4 linked regions of the Homo sapiens genome follow. The protein of the gene in region 4 purifies or fractionates together with the protein of the main gene of each other region. This does not show direct contact. Each region holds a gene or a part of one and is shown on either strand. Other genes may lie near its edges.

The links.
Region 1: the proteins of IFIH1 (region 4) and ARRDC4 purify together in Homo sapiens (affinity purification with western blotting; one study listed by BioGRID). This does not show direct contact.
Region 2: the proteins of IFIH1 (region 4) and ABHD10 purify together in Homo sapiens (co-immunoprecipitation; one large-scale study listed by IntAct). This does not show direct contact.
Region 3: the proteins of IFIH1 (region 4) and DDHD2 purify together in Homo sapiens (co-immunoprecipitation; one large-scale study listed by IntAct). This does not show direct contact.

Annotation. Positions count from the first base shown.
Region 1 is NC_000015.10:97,958,488-97,964,027, reverse strand, and holds the start of ARRDC4 (arrestin domain-containing protein 4), read right to left. Parts: upstream 3,326-5,540; 5' UTR 3,167-3,325; coding exon 2,860-3,166; intron 1-2,859. UniProt on the Homo sapiens protein: Functions as an adapter recruiting ubiquitin-protein ligases to their specific substrates. Plays a role in endocytosis of activated G protein-coupled receptors (GPCRs).
Region 2 is NC_000003.12:111,984,590-111,989,550, reverse strand, and holds part of ABHD10 (palmitoyl-protein thioesterase ABHD10, mitochondrial isoform 1 precursor), read right to left. Parts: intron 3,288-4,961; coding exon 3,176-3,287; intron 2,638-3,175; coding exon 2,500-2,637; intron 1-2,499. UniProt on the Homo sapiens protein: Acts as an acyl-protein thioesterase that hydrolyzes fatty acids from acylated residues in proteins.
Region 3 is NC_000008.11:38,258,149-38,263,109, reverse strand, and holds the end of DDHD2 (triacylglycerol hydrolase DDHD2), read right to left. Parts: intron 3,071-4,961; coding exon 2,989-3,070; 3' UTR 2,963-2,988; intron 2,547-2,962; exon of another isoform or gene 2,511-2,546; 3' UTR 274-2,510; downstream 1-273. UniProt on the Homo sapiens protein: Diacylglycerol (DAG) and triacylglycerol (TAG) lipase required for proper lipid homeostasis in the central nervous system. It cooperates with PNPLA2/ATGL in neuronal TAG catabolism and hydrolyzes sn-1,3 DAG downstream of PNPLA2/ATGL.
Region 4 is NC_000002.12:162,311,117-162,316,124, reverse strand, and holds part of IFIH1 (interferon-induced helicase C domain-containing protein 1), read left to right. Parts: intron 1-5,008.

The DNA.
Region 1 (5,540 bases), on a different chromosome or scaffold from region 4:
AAGAACAAGTCACAGGGGCATGAGATCATGTTAAATTCAGTGGCAGGGCGGGTCCCAGTGGCTGACGTGTGCTCAGGAAGGTAGCAGCAGAGCAGGGACCAGGGAAGCATCTCGACCTGACAGCTGTGGAGTGAAAGGCTCAAGGCAATCCCAGTGCTCCTAAAAGAGCTGGGCTAAAGTTCTAATTTGAAATTACTAGATTACAGAACATGACGAAGTATTTACAAATGTTTTGAAATGTGTATTTCATTTGAGTTTAAAATGTGTAGTGCTTAGATTTCAGGCACCGCAGATAATCCTCAAAGAGACCGGGGGAGGAAAGGAGATTACATGCTTGTACACAAGCAATGACCATGGAGTGCTAGAACCTAGAGCACCCACATAGGAACATGGGTGGGCCCGACATCTTCAGGACCTGAGGGCTGGAATGGAGACAGATAGGAAGGGAAATTTAGATAAGGGAATAGCATGAGGAAGAGCATGGCAGGCATTTGTGGGGAACACAGTTGCCCAGGATACTGAAGAGAATGAGAGACATGAAGTTCCCCTTTCATTAAGCAACAAATCGACATCGGATCTATATCATTTAAAATGAGACTTTCAACTATCTCAAAACATAAACAGGAAAAAGAAATGGAAAAACTGATAAAAATGGGTTATAATATTTGGAATTCAATCTTTGTTTTCTTTTCCTCTTTCTCAAGTTTTGTTTTTAATGTAAAAGGTTCACAAGCTGAACCATGTGCCCATTTCTGCTTCTGCACCAACCGCTCATTATTTCTGTCTTGTATACTGAGCACTACAAAGTCACAGGAAGATGTTTCAATCACTAATGGCCTTACAGCCAAAGCTCATAATTAAAGGTTTTGATGAGCCGTGGGATGCAGAAGACCATTACAGAGGCAGAGACTGGGGCTCAGGAAGGGTGAGGGACTTGCATAAGGTCACACTGCTGGTGGGTGACCAAGAACTGAGACCAACTCTCTGATTCTGGCTTGTTTTCTACTACAGTTTCTCAATAAAAATATGAAGAAAATCAATCACAATGACAGCAAGTAGTTGAATTAGATTAAGGATGTCAAAGAATTATCTGGAGAGCATTTGTGAAAACAGATCCCAGTGCTACATAATATGGATTTCTAAAAATCTCCTTAGGTGATTGAAACACAGCCAGGTTTTGTAATTAAATTACCCCCAGAATCTAGACTGTGTAAAGATGCTAAGTTCTTCCAAGCTATAGATATTAGGGGTGACTTATTTTTTTTCCCCAACTAAAAGAGACTATGATTTTAAGCAAAATGTAATTGTGCCAATATGTGCTATGATACATTCTAAAACAAGTTTAAGATTTTCAAATTGTCTAGTTTTTACATTCTGTTCCACATGTGTATATATGTGTGTGTGTGACGAATAAACATCTGACTTGTGAATTAAAAAAAATGTTAGCCCAGATTTTACCAAAGCAGTTTTTTATTGCTAATCCCAGGTTCAACTGCTTTTAATTTTACATCTATTGACTCAGCAGTTATAGGCCCAGAGATACAGTCCAAAGTCCTGGACAAAAATCAATGTATGTCTCACTCCCAAGGTCCTTGACTCCATTCGGCCATCTTGCAAATTGTATTGTCTGCTTCCACTGGGGCCTGGGTTGATCCTGGAAGCCATACTGAGGAAAGTGCATGAAGGAGTAAGAACTATCACTAACACACTGTTCCCATTGATCCAAAAGGCAGTTTTGGTTCCAAATATAGTTTTCCTCACTACAATTTTGGGATGACTCAGATGATCACTTACCTCGAGGAGTTCACTGTGTCCACAGTAGGATAGGGCAAAACCACATATTCTATTATATTTTGTATAAGACATAGCACATAGATATAATGCGTTTACTCTTCAAGGAGAGGAGGTGCATACCATTGTTTTATTTGATAGATAAAAGCTCATGGCAAAAACGTAAAAGTTTAAACTAGTTTCCATCCATGAAATGAGTAAGACTCATGGTTCTTAGTATTTTCGTGACTAAAGGGATCCAATTTTGGTATCTAATATTAATGAAACGCTCATGTAGTGTGTCCCCACATGGGTACTTCTGGAAAAGTCTACACTGTGAACTGGACTTCACCAAAGTGAGCAGGAAGGGAAATCCCGACACGCCCTGATGCTCTTGTCTCTAAAGGCATTTTGAGTGGAGAGAAGTGGGGGAGAGGGGAAGAAGCGGGTAGGAGGGGAGGAGGAGGATGGGGAGGAAGAGGATGCGGAGGAAACAGCAGCAGTATCAGGTAGAGGTACAACTCTTACTAAGTTGCCCTGCTCCCCAGAAGAGGGAAACCAAGCATGATGATCAAGTCTGGAAAACACTTCCTTTGAACTCCTACCCCTCAGAAACTACTTCCCTATTCCCCAAACCAAATTTCTGCTAATTCATCATGAACCAAGAACGTATGCAGGATAGGGAGGAGTGGAGGCCATAGGACACGGGCACCGCAGAATGGAACCTCATAGCCGCCGGTTCCACCGTCCCTTTCTTGGACCAGAAGGAACAGGACCTAGATTTCTGGATCCCCCATTGTCCAATCACAGGTTCCCACCGCACCCAATGGCCCCCTCCCGTCGCGGTCCTAGAAAATCCCGAGCCACTGGTCCCGGTCAGGCCCGGCGGGCCAGGGGCGGGGCGCCAGGAAGAGCTGCGCACCCAGGACTTGCGGTCTCTCCTTACCCGCGAGGGTAGGCCGGACCCCACCCCCGGAAGCCCGCCCTGATCTCACCTGCCAGGTGGGCATCCCGAGGGTGCGCGGCCTCCCAGCCCCTCCCCGGCCCCGCAGCCTGGCGGGGGAACCCCAGGCGCTCGCCTGCGCTTACCGGCCGGGGGCTCCCGCAGGCTGAGGCGCACGTTCAGGTACTCCACCTCCGAGAAGACAGCCAGGGCCGCGGTGCTGGCCGAGGCGCGGGGGCAGGTGCTCGGGCCCCAGGCGGCGGTGGCGCGCCCCTGGGCCTCCAGGCGCAGCGCGCGCAGGGCCACCGGCTCGGACGCCTCCAGCAGCACGTGCCCGGCCACTGTCTCGCCGCTGGAATAGCAGCCCTTGCGCTCGTCCTCGAACACCAGACCCAGGCTCTTCACGCGGCCCTCGGCACCCACGGCCGCCGCGCACCCAGCCTCCCCGCCCATCCCGCCGGGCGACTCTTTCCTGCCCCTGAGGTCGGCAGAGGCCCGGAGCCGGGGTCGCGAGCACAGCGGCGCCGCTGTCACAGGCGCTCGCGGCAGGGTAAGGCCGCCGCGGCAGCCGTGCGGTACCCGATGGGGCACCGGCTCGCCGAGAGGCCTGTCGCTTTAACAAACCCAGTTGGGCCTGGAAAAGGGCCGGGACAGCCCACCCCCGGCGGGCGGCCATTGGTCAGCTGCGAGCCCTGCTTCTTGCTGATTTGTTGTAGATGGTCACTGAGTCATTTCATTGGCGCTCCCACGCGTGGGTGGGCGCAGGAAGGCCGTGCGTGATCAGGGAGTGTTGGCCAATCGGGAGGCTCCGGCGTGCACGTGCACAGGCCGTTTACTGGCTGAGGCCAGGCACAGTCCTGGAGCCCTGGCCAATAGTGAGGCGGTGCGCCCATGTGGACAGACAGTGGGAAACAGTATCTGTCAGGGAGGGGGCGGAACAGGGTTATCTCCGGCTCTCAGCGTGTCAGCCGTTCCCATAGTTACGAACGGGGGCGGGGTTTCTAGCAGCGTAAGGACTTTGCAGGAGCCACTGGGTTCTCGCTAAAGCATGAAGTTGTGGCTGTAACTGGCTTGTGTTTATGATTACATCTGCAATACTCGAGGGGAAATAGATGCTCTGGGAAACGGAACTCGGCAATATTTCCTTTTGAGATCTTGGGGGCCGGCCGCATCGGGACTTTAATGAATGACTTGGAATCTTCTAACCTCCAGGTTTTTGATCACCGCCTCTCCCAGGTTTCAGAATTCCCAGCCCATGTAAGAGCCATAGATAAGAAAAATGAGGGTTGTGGTTTTAAACCTGATACATCCCCTAAGGAGTTCTCCTCCTAAGCTCCGCAGTGTCGCTGTTAGGAATAGCTGGAACTCTGATTCTTCCTGCTGTAAATAAGATCATGAATCACATTGTTTTTGAACAACATCTGTCACTCAAGTTTCTGCCCCACCCGAAAGTTTCCTGACATCATTGTCATATCCACAGAAATTTCCAATTGCCTTGATGACTTGTTCCTCACGCCCAAGTTTCCTCCGGCTTGTCCTGCTACATTTTCCTTTTCAACCTTCCATTTTTTCTCTGTTCTGTTTTTTACCATCTTGCATAGCTGTCATTAGCTGGTCATCATTTTCTTAACTTTTAAGTTGTCCCCTTATCGACATGCCACGTTTGTGAGCTGTTATGTATTGATTAATCTCACAATGAAATTTAGCAATTTTCCTAAAAAAAAAACCTCAAAGTAAAGGTTGCTCTACTACCCTCGTTGAGTTTAGATTATTAATGTGGAGATTTAGTAAAGTTTTATAAGTTCAAAATTTCCTTATTACCTCTCAGAGAAAGTGGAAAAGTCACAAATTAGGCTCTGTGTAAAGTTCAGAAATAGTTGCTATTCTCTGACCATTTCGTCTAGAATAGCTCCCTACATGATCTTACTCTGCCTACTTTTTTTTTTATATAACACAACGTGACCTTACGTGTTTATCTATGTATTATCCATCCCACTCATTTGAAACACAGAACTTGTTCTCATTCGTTTTTTGACCTCTAGGGCCTAACACAGATCTTAGCATACAGTAAGTGCTCAATAAATGTTGAGTGATTGAATGATGTATCCTAACCGTGTAGTAGTATTGGCTCTGCAATACATGAATAGTGTTCTGCCTCTTACTCTACTAAACTTTCACTGTCTCCAGGCAATGGTTCCCTCCAAATTAAGTGGCTGGGAGAGGGAGAAAAGGACAATGGTCCTAACGGTAATGAAAGGACAAAATGGCAGGTTTTGCATTCTGTACTGGGAAAGACCAGACTCTCTGTTTTCATTTCAGTTAAGAACAGTTTTGGCCAGCCAGGCATGGTGGCTCACACCTGTAATACCAGCATTTCGGGAGGCCGAGGCGGGCAGATCACAAGGTCAAGAGATCGAGACCATCCTGGCCAACATGGTGAAACCCCGTTTCTACTAAAAATACAAAAATTAGCTGGGTGTGGTGGCTCGCACCTGTAGTCGCAACTACTCGGGAGGCTGAGGCAGGAGAATCTCTTGAACCCGGGAGGCGGAGGTTTTCAGTGAGCCGAGATTGTGCCACTGCACTCCAGCCTGGGTAAGAGAGCGAGACTCCATCTCAAAACAACAACAACAAACAATAGTTTTGGCTACAGGTAACAACAGACTGTGTGACCAACACACATTCTGCCTTTAAAAATATTTCTTGTTTACTAGACGAAAAGGTCAGTAGTAGAGTATGGGCCCTTCAGATTGATTCATCAGAATCCTTTTATCTTTCTCTTTGACATACTCTGCTCCCTTCATCGTAGTAGGGATTACCACAGCTC
Region 2 (4,961 bases), on a different chromosome or scaffold from region 4:
ACACTGAATTAATAATAGTTTCATTTTAAGCATCCCTGGCCCCCAACTAGCTCTGCTACCTGCCACTGAATTGAATGAAAATGGTCCATCTGAAGAACAAAGTTAACTTTATAAAATGTTGTATGTCTCAAGTCCTCAAGAACAAAAAGTTCAGAAACAGCAAAGACATTACCCAAAGAAAATGTACAATATATTAAGTTCTACATCAACAAAACTTATCAAGGCAATGTGGTTCAGAAGCTTACATTCCCAACAGCTGTGCATCATGTCTGAGGCCCTCTAGTGTCCAAAGAAGGTGATAATGATTAGAGTCAGTTAAAGAGGATGGTCAAGTTCTTAGAGAAGAAATGAGAAATGCTGGGCTTACTATTCCCAGGGTTATAAAAGATAGTAAAAATCTCCACATCTGCTCCGTTGACATTGTTAGGGCTAGCTGTTTATGTGGAGAAGAGATAGCGGTCTTAGTGTTGGTGCTCTTTCCTTATACATGCTTTTAAGTTAACCAAGGGCTCAACATGCTTCTGTTAACAACTGCTTATCTGAGTAAGTATTAGCAAAAAATGCCTTGATTTGCAGATTATAAATCTTCTCAATTAGAAAGTATCTACCCTATGCTCACTCTGACTGATGTGAACACACACACACGCAGAGAAATGTACATGGCCAGGCACAGTGGCTTGTGTCTCTAATCTCAGCACTTTGGGGGTCCAAGGCAGGAGAATCTCTTGAGCCTAGGAGTTCAAGACCGGCCTGGGCAACATGGCGAGACCCCATCGCTACAAAAAATACAAAAATCAGCCAGGCATAGTGGTGTGCACTTGTGGTCCCAGCTACTCAGGAGGCTGAGGTGGGAGGATCTCTTGAGTCTGAGGGGTCAAGGCTGCAGTAAGCAATGACTGCACCACTGCACTCCAGCCTGGGCAACAGAGATACCCTAAAAACCCCCCCAAATAAAAACAAAACCAAAACAAATGTACACAGGTTTTGTCATTTACCAATAATTACAAAATACAATAAACCCCCAACCCCCAAAAATCAACTCCTTTTCAATCTGCTATGTCTTTGAGATAATTTCCTACCCAAGAAGCGCTGTATTATTGAGTTAAGAGGATGGAGCAAGGAGTCCACATTTAGATCCACAAAATGTCAAAGGTGGGAAAAACATGAAGACATTGAGCAACTATGTATGAGAAACCACCAAGAAAGTGAACAAAATTCAGAAACAGGAGATAAGTTCAAGGAAGACCAGCTTTGTAATTTCAGCTCTGATAGGAAATAATATGAGAAACCTGAATACACACACAATGCTATTTCTTAAGGAGCTTAAAACAACGTGAACTAAGAATGAACTTAGTTAATATATGGCACAGGTATTAATGCAGAACTTGAGGCAAATCAATGACATTCTACTATTCAACACTGCATACGTTTTTTCTTCTTTTTTTTTAAATTTCTGAACCTCCTTCTCCTCTTCCCCCATTCTCTAAAGCATTGTTCTCAAACTTTACAAGAGGTTTGTTAAAACACAGACTGCTGGGCCATACCCCCAGTTTCTGATTCAGGGTAAAACCCAAGAATTTGGGTTTCTAACAAGTTCTCAGGTGCTGCTGCTGCTGCTAGCCTAGGGACCATATTTTTTAACTACTGCTCTGTTTTCTTTAATTTCTGTGTCTCTGTCACTCTGACTGACAATATCTGTCTGGAGAGTTCTGTTGGGAGGAACTGAGGCTGCTTTTAGGCTAAAACAAAGACAGTCAGCTCTCCATATTCATGGTTTCTGCATCCATGGATTCAACTAACTTTGTATCAAAAATATCTGGAAAAAAAAGGTTACCTCTGTATTGAACGTGTACAGTCTTTTTTTCTTGTCCGTATTCCCTAAACGATACAGTATAGCAACAATTTACATAGCGCTTACATTGTACTAGGTATTTTAAGTAATCTGGCAATGATTTAGATTATACAAGATTATGTGCAAATACTACACCATTTTTTTTCTCAGAGACTTGACCATCTGTGGATTTTGGTATCCATGGGAGGTCTTGGAAGCAATCCCCTTCAGATACCAAGGGATGACTGCAGTTTCAGTTCATTAGCCCACTCTAACATAGTCATAAGAACAGGCACTACTCCCCATATGCCACAAAGTAAGAGGACCAAAAGGAGATCACGATGTATGATTCAAATAAGTAAATGTAATAATAAAGAAAATGTGGCTAAAAAAAAAGAAACTTCAAAGTGTGATATTGTTAATGTGTCTCAAATATTTGGCAGAATGATTTGAAGAGACTATGAAGAAACGAAATCTTAAACAAGATGACAAATAGTTAAAGATAGAAAAGAGGTTGTGTACAGAAAGGCAGCTAAGACAAAAGTTGGGCCAGCACAGTAAGTCAAAGGAATTATTGTTTTCTGTCCCCCCTTCCCTCAAAGAAAGAGGGAGCAGAAGAAGTATAAGCGGTAAATATATTGAGGTGGCAAAAGTGACTTTTGACTTACCTCAACAGGAAGCTGATTAAACTTTGTCACTAAGGTATCTGCAGCTGTAGCTACACCAATAAGAGCCACGACCTTCTCTGGTCGTGCAATTGCAGCATGAAGCATAAGCCACCCTCCAAGGCTAGATCCAACAAGAATCTAAAAATAAAATAAAATAAAACATTAGGTCTTTAAGATAGAACAGGTTATAAACATAAAACAAAATATGTACAATAAAAAATTAGAAAGTAAAAATAGAATCATTTTAAATCAAATATCAAAATGGATTAAACATTTAAATTAAATAAAAACATTTTCATATCTAAAGAAACAGCTTAGGCCGGGTGTGGTGGCTCACGCCTGTAATCCCAGCACTTTGGGAGGCCCAGGCGGGCGGATCACGAGGTCAGGAGATCGAGACCATCCTGGCCAACACGGTGAAACCCCATCTCTACTAAAAATACGAACAATTAGCCGGGCGTGGTGGCGGGTGCCTGTAGTCCCAGCTACCTGGGAGGCTGAGGCAGGAGGATGCCGTGAACCCGGGAGGCAGAGCTTGCAGTGAGCCAAGATTGCGCCACTGCACTCCAGGCTGGGTGACAGCACGAGACTCCATCTCAAAAAACAAAACAAAACAAAACAAACAGCTTAAATACGAGGTTACAGTAATTATCATCATACTTAACAAAACAGTCACCTGTGGCCCATCAGCTAAGTCATCAATTATAGAAAGAACATCTTTTCTCCATTTCCCCAGTGTGCTTTCCTCTGAGTTACCATCTGAACTTCCAACTCCTGAGTAATCAAACCTGGAAAAAGGGGAAAAAAATCTATATCTAAATATCTATATATCTGCTTCTTTAATTTTTAAGAAAGATAGCACCTTCCTCATTACTATAATGCTTATAGTGAAACATCACAATCAATATGTATTTTAGCAAATTCTATTGGCTTATTAACTTTCAAATACCTCCTGTGTCCAATCACTTTCTCACCTCCTCCACTGCTACCAGCCTGTTGCTAGTCACACTGTCTCTCAACCTAACTGAATGCAATAGTCTCCTAAAAAGTCTCCTGTTTGCATTTTCACACTCATTGTCTTTCCCTATATAGTAGAGTGATCCTTTTAAAACAAAACCATGTCTTGCAAACCCTCCAAAGGCTTTCTATAATCTTTAAATCCAGAGCCCTTACCATACTTTGGTGCCTGATCACCTCTCTGATCTCATTTCTCATTGTTTTCTCTCTCTCCCTCCCTCCCTCCCAACTGTATCTTCGCTTTGCTTCTTGAAGCTCCCATCTCATCAGCTTTTCTCTCCACATGGCATACTCTCCTCCAGATAGCCATTTAGATTGCTCCCACACTTCATTCAGGCCTTTGGCTCAAATATTACATCCTCAGAAAAGCCTCCCATGACCATTCAATTATTAAAACTGTGCTGCTTTCATCATTCTCTAATTCTTTACTCTGCTTCATTTTCTTCATAGCACTTATTACTACTTGAGATATATTTGATTATTTATGGTCCATCTCCCACATTAGAATGAAAGTTCCACATGGGCACAAGCTTTGTTTCAATGCGTTCCTAGTGCCTAGTTCAGTTCCTTGCGAGTGGTAGGTGCTTAGTGTATATTTAGTGAATTGATGGAAGGGAAGGAGACCAGAATAAAATTCATCATCACCAACCCATCCCTTTCTCCTTCCAACTTCCTAGTTATCTAGGCTCAGTTATCTGTCTGATCTATGAATTTTACCTCTCCTTAAGGGTATCAAATCAATAAAAAATCATGGTGGTATAAAGTATCATACCACACCCACAGGTTACCTAAACTCTAGTCATACTGAACTACTCCTAATTCCCAGTTACACCCTTTTATAACTTAGAGCCTTAGCATGCTGTTCTGCTGCCAAGAACAGCTTCCTCCCCAACCCAAATTCGTAGTCACCCTTTAAGTCATGTCACCTCCTCTGAGGAACTTCACTTGACATATATGCCCCATTTAGTACCAGTCACTTTCTTTTGTATGTACTCAACACTTTTCATATTGTATTGTAATCAAGTTTGTTTTTAAACATTCATCTCCCTCTGACTAGAATGTCAGTTCCTTAAGAGGAGGCTGTTTTATTCGTTTGTTTTTCCAGGCCACAGAATACTGCCTGCCCTATACCATCACCATTCTTTCTCATTTCTTCTTATGTTCATCCCTTTCTTGGTACTTTGGTAAGTCCAGTATCTTGGTGTAGGTGTTTATTTGTCATCTTAGACCTAGACTATCACAGTAGCCTTCTATCTTGTGTCTCTATGACTCTGTCTTTAAATAGAGTCACTATATACATGTCAGTTTTTTTCTTTAACATTTTAGCATTACCTTCAGTGCTCCCTGTGATATACAACATAAACACTTAGTGCTTTGGCCTGTTTTTTTGAACCATTATATTCTGGTCATTTCAGATTGATTTCACAATAAATTTTACAGTAAAT
Region 3 (4,961 bases), on a different chromosome or scaffold from region 4:
AAATATTTAAAGTACATTAAGGGGCTGGAACTTTAGTAAAGCAAAACATTGAATTCCCCATCCGCCCTAAGTGATTCAACTGCTGTTATCTATAGTACTGGCTAATATTTATAAATACCAAAGGAAAGTCTCTTATAATTGCCATGCTTTAAATTCTGAACTTAAATTCTGCCTATGACAATTAAAATACCAGTCAACAGGAAAGAACTTACATATTAGTTCTTTGCCCAAAACCTATTTTTTTGTTTTAGTAATACATAAAGACAGAGAAAATCGTGACTGTACTGATTTTCTTGACTTTGAGACGGGTGAGTCCAGGTAAAAGTAGGCCACTAGTCAATATGGTTTCATGTTAGTATTTACTAAAGTTTTAAATATAATCACGTAGAAAACAAACATTTCAAAAATGCAAAATATTAGAAATCTAATCAGTGCTATTAATCTTTCCATGCAAACAATCTCTTTTGCTGAGATAAGTGATACTAGTTCTGCAGCTGGGAATATGTACAAAATGATGCTGTACCAGAGTTTAAAAATAGGGTTGGTCTAGAGATTGCACATGATACAAATGAAGCAGCGCAAATAATATATGACTAAATACAGGATTTCAATCAAGCTTATCATCCTGGGAATATACAGCTATAATACCATGAATAGACAAGATATAAAGCTCTTTCACAGTTACCCACCCCTCACCACTAGGAAAGAAACATTTCTTAATACAAAGAGTGGTTTATCTGGCTATCCAGGGCTATGCTGTCCATCTTTGGTTATAGGGACTCCCTCTGCTTATCCTTTGGTTTACTCTTAAATAGCACCTATTCTGCCAATAGGAAGAGTAAACATAAATTTGAAGACCACAACTTGGCAAAAGCTTCCCCTTAATATACAGTGAATACTTAATTCTCAATAACTCAGAGTTTATATACCTTTAAAAAAATAAAGTATTCCATATATCTGAAACTTAGTGGCATACTTAGCACTAGACTATAAGCAGATGACAAAGAAAGGCCAGGCCTGACCTATACCCCAACCTTACCTCTACAATCTCCATGGTGACAGTAATTACCCTTCATTTTCCTTTTCTTTCCAGAAAGGGATAAAGACCACTGCTGTCTAAGGAATGGCTTCAGTAAATATTAAATGTCAGTGGCTTTGAATACCATAACATTTATAAAAAAATTTATAAACAATAAACCACAGCTCGCCTGCCTTTGCCACTCTATAAACAGAGGCCTGTGGAATCTGAGAGCAAGTATAAAGGATTATCATAAAGAGAACTACAAAGACAATGACAAACTGACCAATGAAGAAGAAAAATCTACAGCAAAGTAGTGAAAAGATGCCTTGACAAAATTAGTGTGCAGTCACTTGTGTTCTTAGAAGTAAACCTCACTTCATATGTTCCAGACTCAGCTGACACTGACTCTGGAATAGCTGTTTCTTGGACCCTACAGACATAAGTTTTTCTTTCAGAACAAGTTAAACATTTCCCCCTAGCCAAACCTACCTGCTCAACCAATGCTGCCCGTGCCAAGAGCCTTTTAAATATGCTTTGTGGATTATGGATACCTAAGAAGGAAAGAGGATACACAATACTACCTTAGCTCAAGTAGAAATGGCAGGTGACAAATTCTGTTTCACCATAAAGGCACCACTAAAAGGTTTTATTTAGAACCTCAGCAGCCTGTAGAGGCTACACAATTTCAGGTTCATCAGCTTTTACAACTATTTTCAACGTAAGAATAGAAGCTATTAGCAAATAACTTCTATCAAATATAAAAGGGAGGCCTAGGATATACAACATCTTTGCTTTATAAAGATGCACCTAACATGAACTAACTTGTCAACTTTAGACTCTTACAGCAGCTCAAACAGTTGCAAAAACAATGAACATCAGTGATTTCTGGCAATAAGTCTGTCAGTTCTAAGAGAGTAAACAACACTTTTTTAAAGCTACATTCTAGTCTTTCTTCATACACTACACATAAGAAAGAAATGCAGGTTCAAAAATAAATCACCCAAAAGTCTTTTCCATGTCCACTGAGACTTAGCCTTCAGTTCAACACAAACAAGAGATAAGTGTACTCCAAAATGCCTTCTGAATCTCAAGAATCTGTTTCCAAACTAGAACATTTTCTAAAGATAAGCAATAAGTTCCTTAAAAACATGTCTACCCCACCCAAAACAAATCAAACCCAAAATAGGCTTTACACCCTGTCAAGTACTAATCAATAAAGTGTGGCAACTATAAACTATCATCAAAGAATTAAAGACACAAACCACCCCCAGCTATGCAGAAAAAAATGGCAAGTGTTTATATGAAGCCAGTGGTTAAAAGTAATAGGGCCTTTTGCTTTTCCATTCATTTCCAAAGAGGAAGATTATCTTCCAAAGACCCCAGTGGTGAGTAAGTGGCAGGCAACATGCAGGAAATGACGCAGCTGAGGAGAGGAAAATTGCAGCAACAAACAGGTGGATTTTCTGGGGAAGGATCCCTCAATGTCCGTCTAGGGAAGAAAGTGGGAGAAGAGCTGCAGTCACAACTGGAAGGCAACCACAGAGAATGCCAGAGTCGAATACACAGACTTTGTAATTTCACATCTAAAAGGCTGAGTAATTTAAATCTCAGGATGGGTGGTTGGTAATTAAAATCATAACTGTTGCCACAGTAACTCTTAGATAACAGAACCATTAAAACTCTGAGTTTAGATCCTAAAAAATGACAGGTGTCATTGGACAAAATCTCTAGCAAAACAGACATACACTAATCTTCCTCTAAATGGGCTACTGTGTTTTTTTCCCCATGAATTTCTACCAGTCCCTCTAAAAATGAATAGCAGCCTAGATCTTGGTGACAGGCAACAGCTAGTATATTTAAAAAGAGCTTGAGGCTCCATAGTTCATTATAACATGTTAATATGTAAGAATTACACTATATATATGACATTTTAAAACTTACATTAAGCAGCCATAGATGGGTCATTTTTACTGTAAAGGCTGATCAAGGAAGATACCCTGGGTTTGGTAGATCTCTTTGAGGACGAGCAATACTGTATCTTCAGACTCCCTATAAAGAGAAAAAATTATGTTGAGAAAAGGAACTAACACTTGTGCCAAATGTTTTACATATATTATCTCATTTAATCCATACAACCATCTTGCAAGTTTATTTTTTACTTCTGCAAAGAAATGAGATTCAGAAGTAATGTAATTGGCAGTGGTTTGGAAGGTGACCTGGCAAAGAACTCTGGCATTAAGTCTAGTAATATAAAAAAGCTAGGAAGAGAGGCCAGGTGCGGTGGCTCATGCCTGTAATCCTAACACTCTGGGAGGCTGAGGTGGACAAGTCACTACAGGTCTGGAATTTGAGCCAGCCTGGCCAACATGGTGAAACCCCATCTCCACTAAAAATACAAAAACTAGGGCTGGGCACGGTGGCTCACGCCTGTAGTCCCAGCACTTTGGGAGGCCAAGGTGGGTGGATCACAAGGTCAGGAGTTTGAGACCAGCCTGGCCAATATGGTGAAACCCCATCTCTACTAAAAATACAAAAATTAGCAGGGTGTGGTGGTATGCGCCTGTAGTCCCAGTTACTGGGGAGACTGAGGCAGAAGAATTGCTTGAACCCAGGAAGCGGAGGTTGCAGTGAGCCGAGATTGCACCACTGCACTCCAGCCTGGCAGATAGGCGAGACTCCGTCTAAAAAAAAAAAAAAAAAACTAGCCAGGCGTGGCAGCATGCGACTGTAGTCCCAGCTACTCAGGAGGCTGAGGCAGGAGAATCGCTTGAACCGAGGAGGCAAAGGTTGCAGTGAGCCGAAGGTTGCAGAGTGTCACTGCACTTCAGCCTGGGCGACAGAGTGAGACTCCATTTCAAAAAAAAAAAAAGCCAGTAAGAAATAACCAAGAATTGTTCCTTTTCCACAGAGATCATTCTAGAGACACTATTGAAGAGTTATCCAGTTGGTCACCTTAATTTTTAAAATATTATGCACTTTTTGGAAAAGGTAATACAATCATAAGGTTCCAAATTCCAACAATATAAGAAAGTAACGAAGTCTCCCTCCCACCTTTGTTCCTCAACCACCACCAGTTCCCATCTTCTGACAACCAATGTTATCAATTTCTCATGCGTTTTCCAGATATTATTCTACGTATGCACAAGCAATTACTTATATCCACACTTCATAACAAAATTTGATTTAAAAAGATTAACACTCATGAGGGACTGCCTTAAGGATATAAGCCTCTATTATTCTTCTAGATCTGTGGTTCAACATTTATTGAGTCATGCATCCTTTTGAGAATCTAATGAAATTACGGATTCTTCCCCAGAAAGGATCACATTGCAACCACAATTATAAATGTGTATTTCATTGGATTCACAGACTTCCCTCATCTCCCACAAACTCATATACACAGACCCCAGCTTAAGAAATTCCTGTATCAACAAGTGGGAATTAGCTCTATCAGATATTAAAATGGTACATAAATAAGCAAATCAACAAGTAAGAAGTTGAGAAATAGTCCCATTTATGTATAGGAATTTAATTAAGTGGCCAGGCACGGTGGCTCACACCTATAATCCTAACACTGGGAGGTCGAGGCAGGCAGATCACCTGAGGTCAGGCGTTCGAGACCAGCCTGGCCAACATAGTGAAACCCCATCTCTACTAAAAATACAAAAATTAGCTGGGCATGGTGGCACATGCCTATAGTCCCGGCTACTCAAGAAGCTGAGGCAGGAAAATCATTTGAACCCAGATGGCGTAGGTTGCAGTGAGCCAACTACTGCACTACTGCACTTCAGCCTGGGCAACACAGCAAGACTCTGTCTCAAAAAAAAAAAAAAGAATTTAATTAATTTAATTTAGAATCTCAAATCTATTAATAGTGTTGAGACGTGGGGAAAAAAGGACCTGAATCTGAATCAAAGATTTATATGTAAAAATTAGATAT
Region 4 (5,008 bases):
GATTGAATTTCCGCCAGCTAGATTTTATCCAAGTTCTTGATTCTGGCAAGCTTGGAGGCAGCTAGCAGTAATGCAAGGGATTTGACACAAAGAAGATATAGAGTAACGGGACTTTTGTGTACTGGTAGCAGTTAAGGCCAAAACAACCCAAATTCTCCCTCTGATTCACATTTCAAAGGAGGCCCCAAAAGACTGAGCAGCTATAAATTTGAGGCTCTCTAGGAAGCAATAGTTTCTCTGTGAGAGTGTGGAATAATTTTTGTGTGCATCATTTACATGTATTATCAGTTCCAAAACTAAGATATGGTGGACAATGAGACGGAAGCATTAAGTTTGGTAGAATAATCTATATTGAGGTGGTGGTCATTGACAAATGTTTATCTTACAGCAGCAAAGTGTGATAAGACTGTAGAAGGGGAACACATGGATTTGAGGTCCATCTTGGCTTCTTACTATATGCGTTACTTTGGGCCAAATTACTGAAGTTCCCTGATGCTACATTTACCTGTGAAAATGGACATCATAAAATTTCTCACAGTATTTTAGTCAACATCAAATCAGAAATAGTGTTTATGAAAAAGCTTATAAATCAGAGCTATTTGATATGATAATGGTGTTGACTTTTGTAACCATTCATCTGGTTACATTTCTGTGTAAATTTAAGTTTGAGAGATTGAGGTAAATTCCCCATGTCGCAATTGAGATATACTTCTTAAAGTCCCTAGATTATACTGATTTGAAAAAGAAATTACCTCTTTCATCCCAGAACCTAACTAGGATTAGGTAGAGGGTTGGTGTTTAGTAAGCATTGATTACTTGATTGATAGACTAATTGAATTTATTTCTGAAAGTGTCTGGAATAAGCGTTGAAAACACATGACGTATTGAATTGTGTTGCCAGGCGTTAGAGAATGGATGAATGATGAAAATAAGATTTCCAAATTTGCTTTTTTGAAGGCTTAAAATAGCATTTAACTAAGTAATCAAGACTTCTATAAAATGGTCTTGTATTTTCATTCTTTTTCTGTTTCCCCATAGACATTTTCTACTTGATCTATTATTTTAATTTAGGATTCCCACCCCATTTCCTAGCCCCTGCCCGTAATTACAGCAGGCCTTCTGAAAATGACTTTATACATAGGTTTGTGTCCAGCAAGTACCCAAAAACTTATTCATTCATTCACTCATTCATTCAGTTTGAATTTATTGAGTGGCATCTTTGTGCCGGATGCCATGCTAGTGGTGAAAAGATAGGAGAAAAACACAGAGACTGTTTTGTCCTTTCGTGAAGTTGTGTTGTAGTGTTAATTAGTGTTGATAAAAGAATGTCTACTGTAGGCCAGTCATGGTGGCTTACGCCTGTAATCCCAGCACTTTGGGAGGCCGAGGAGGGTGGCTCTCGAGGTCAGGAGATGGAGACCATCCTGGCTAACACGGTAAAACTCCGTCTCTACTAAAAATACAAAAAAATTAGCTGGGTGTGGTGGTGGGAGCCTGTAGTCCCAGTTACTCGGGAGGCTGAGGCAGGAGAATGGCATGAACCTGGGAGGCGGAGCTTGCAGTGAGCTGAGATGGCGCCACTGCACTCCACCCTGGTGACAGAGCGAGACTCCATCTAATAAGAAAGAGAGAAAGAAAAAGAAAGAAAGAAAGAAAGAAAGAAAGAAAGAAAGAAAGAAAGAAAGAAAGAAAGAAAGAAAGAAAGAAAAGAAAGAAAGAAAGAAAGGAGGGAGGGAGGGAGGGAGGGAGGGAGGGAAGGAAGGAAGAAAGGAAGGAAGGAAAGAAGAATGTCTACTGTATACAAGGGACTATTCTAAATACTAGAGTTTCAGCAATAAATATATGCCATTTTATCAATCATTATAATAAAGCAATCCTTAATGGTAAGGGGGTACCCCTGTACTGCCTTGCTCCTCTTTTAGGATGCTAAGTTACAATTTGGCATTGTTACATCTTAGTTATAACTAAGTTACAACTTGGCACACCCATCAATTTAGGCAGTCATGAACTCTGGGAACGAAAGTGATCATATAAACATTTCCATAGTGTCTTAATAATCAAGCTGAACAGCTAAAGAGAGATGCATGTTTCATCCCTGGCCAGTTCAGAACACAATGCATCTGTAGTCCTGGAGACTCCACACACCTTCCATTTACACAGAAGAACCAGAGATGCCATGACTAGTCCACCTAAGAACAGTCCAGTTCTCCCAACATGAAGTTGAGCACCCAAGTCAATCTCCCCAGGAACATTGTATTGTCTGGCAAATTAGGAAAGATAAGAATTTCATCTGCAAAAAAAAAAGTATGAATAAGAAATTAGCTATGTCAATGTGACAATAAATATTCATTGGGTTAAGACATTAACTTTTTGTGGGAAACTGGTTCTTTAAAATTCTTTTTTAACATACAGGTTTTGCCTCCTGATTTACTTTTATCTGAGAGTTGAACTCTGCTGGGTTAAAAAAATCACCATTATATTTAAATAGCTATCTAAGGTTATTATAAAGGGAAGAAAACATTTTCATTAAACTGTACAATTGTGTTGGTAAGCCAGTGCTTTATGGAAATGTCATTGGTTTCTTCACTGATTTCTGTTGGAAAGAAAAAACATATCAAAGAATTTAGAATATGAAAGCATTGAGTTGTATTATTACCAAATTAATTTTATTTCGTATTTCATAAATTAGTTAACAATGTATTAATAGACTACATAGTGAAAACATCCATCCATTTTTAACTTCACAGAGAAAACTTCGAGTGGGGGAGGGGCATGGGTGAGAATTGTTTTATGACTTGTTGCAGTCTCAAATGTAAATATTCACCTCCCACGAATTTCTGTAATTGTGTTTACATATTGGGATCAATATCTTTACAATGTTTTAGGAGAACATATTAAATTTTTAAAATTATATAATTGCTTCAAAGGGAGCTGATGTACTTTCCAGCACCAAAACTGAGAAGATTTCTTAAAAATTCAGCATCTTGATGAGGCTGCTAAAATTGCACAGATATATGTAGTTCCACATTCAAATTGTAAGAATATGTTTAGGAAATAATGACATCATGATCCTTATATGCTTGGACTCAATAACGGCAAAGAAAGCTTGAAAAATATGATTCCACAGTAAAAGTTGACTTAATAGAATAGTGGTTGAAGAAAATTTTGTGGATAGAATATGCTTAGGGATTTTTAATAACAGCATTTGTTGCCTCACTGGTTCTTTTTAAGGAAATCCTTCCTGATTGCTTCAGTCAAATATATTTAAAGCTGATTAAAGGATGGGGTAATAAAATATGAGAATGGCTGAGTTAAAAGAAGACACTGAAACCAGTCTTATTTACATCTATAGCAATTACTTGTTAAATTAGCAGATGATAATAAAGATGTTACAACATCAGGGAAGCCAAAGAATTTCCATTAGGAGACTAAGAGAGCTAGAAAAAAATGGTAAAAAATGAGCAAAAATCTGCTTAGAAAATGTTGTGGGTGACATGGACTGAATTCACTTGAAATTTACTGAGTTCAAATAGTTATTTTTAACCACTTCTTGCCAGAAAATGAATTTAAAATTGGAGAAAATTATAAGCTATAATTATAGTTCAAGAAGGCAGGATTCAGCCTCTAAATTCAACTGCCTGGGATCAAATTCTACTTCTGCCACTTACTCACTTTGTGACCTCAGAGAGGTACCTAAACATCTCTGTGCCTCGGATTTCTGATCTGTAAATGAGTTAATATTGGTACCTATTTCTGGGCTGCTGGGTTAATATATTCAAGTTCCCTAGAACAGCATGCTTAACTACTAGATGCTAAGACGGAAATATCCCTTGGGTAGAGACCATGCTGTATGTGCTTGTGCAGGTGAGGTGTTTGTAACAATAACTCTTCCCAATCATCCATAATAGTTCTAACACTGAATTAGTGCCAGACATTGTTCCAAAAATGTTAACAAATTTCTGACATAAAAGGTTATGGAATATATTTATAGAACTAGAAAATACATAAATTTGTAGGAAAGAACTAAACAATCCAAATGATACATGTGGAAGATTGGCAAATGTTGAGAAGGACCTTTGATAATATCAAAGTCAATATTTCTTATCTGGGAGGCTGATAGAATCACATGAGATGTTTTACTTTTTCTTTAATATCTGAGTTCCTAACATAGACAAAATAAATCATAATCTTTTAGGGGTGTTTCCTAGACATCAGTATTTTTTAAGGCTTTACGGTTGTTTCTAACATGCAGCTAAGATATAGAAACTCTGAAATTTCTTTTCAGCTGCCTTGTAACCACATATTGTAACCAAGGTCTAGGGAGATGAAGTAAATTGCCTAATGCCACAGAAAGCTAATGATGTCCTGCCTAACTTCTTTCATGTCTAAACATGGCTTGAGTTACTCTTTCCTCCAAATCCTTATTGCTATATTAGGACCTAGGGAAATGCACTGTGACAATGATTACACAAAAGATCCACATTTAAAAGAAATTTACTAATCTAAAAGAGAAAATAAAAGAAGGCTAAAGACTCTAATGAATGGATATAAAAATAATTCTGCCCCATATTTCCAAAAAAAAGATATAACAATAAATTTCCCATAACATTAAAAAAACACAAATTTGAGAAAAATTGATTATAGTAATAATCAACTATGCAAATATTACATAGGAAAAAATATAAATCTGCAGTAGTAATTACTTATTTCATAATGATAATCATGAAGAAAGGAGATAAGAAATGTTTGATTTCCCATTTACAGACTCCATAGATTGAAAAAATATAGCCAGCCCTAGATATACAGAAAGAAATTGGTGAAAATAGACATAACATGGCTGCAGACTAAAGATACTTTCTCTTCTATCCTTTATTCAGGAATGGCTGAGGTAAAATTTATTTTCTAGGTGTCAGGTTTGAATAATTCAATAGCTTTTAAAAAAAATGGTTCATATTTAAAAGGACACTTGGTCCAGAGATTTTTGTTGTTGTTGTTGTTGTTGTCCCGG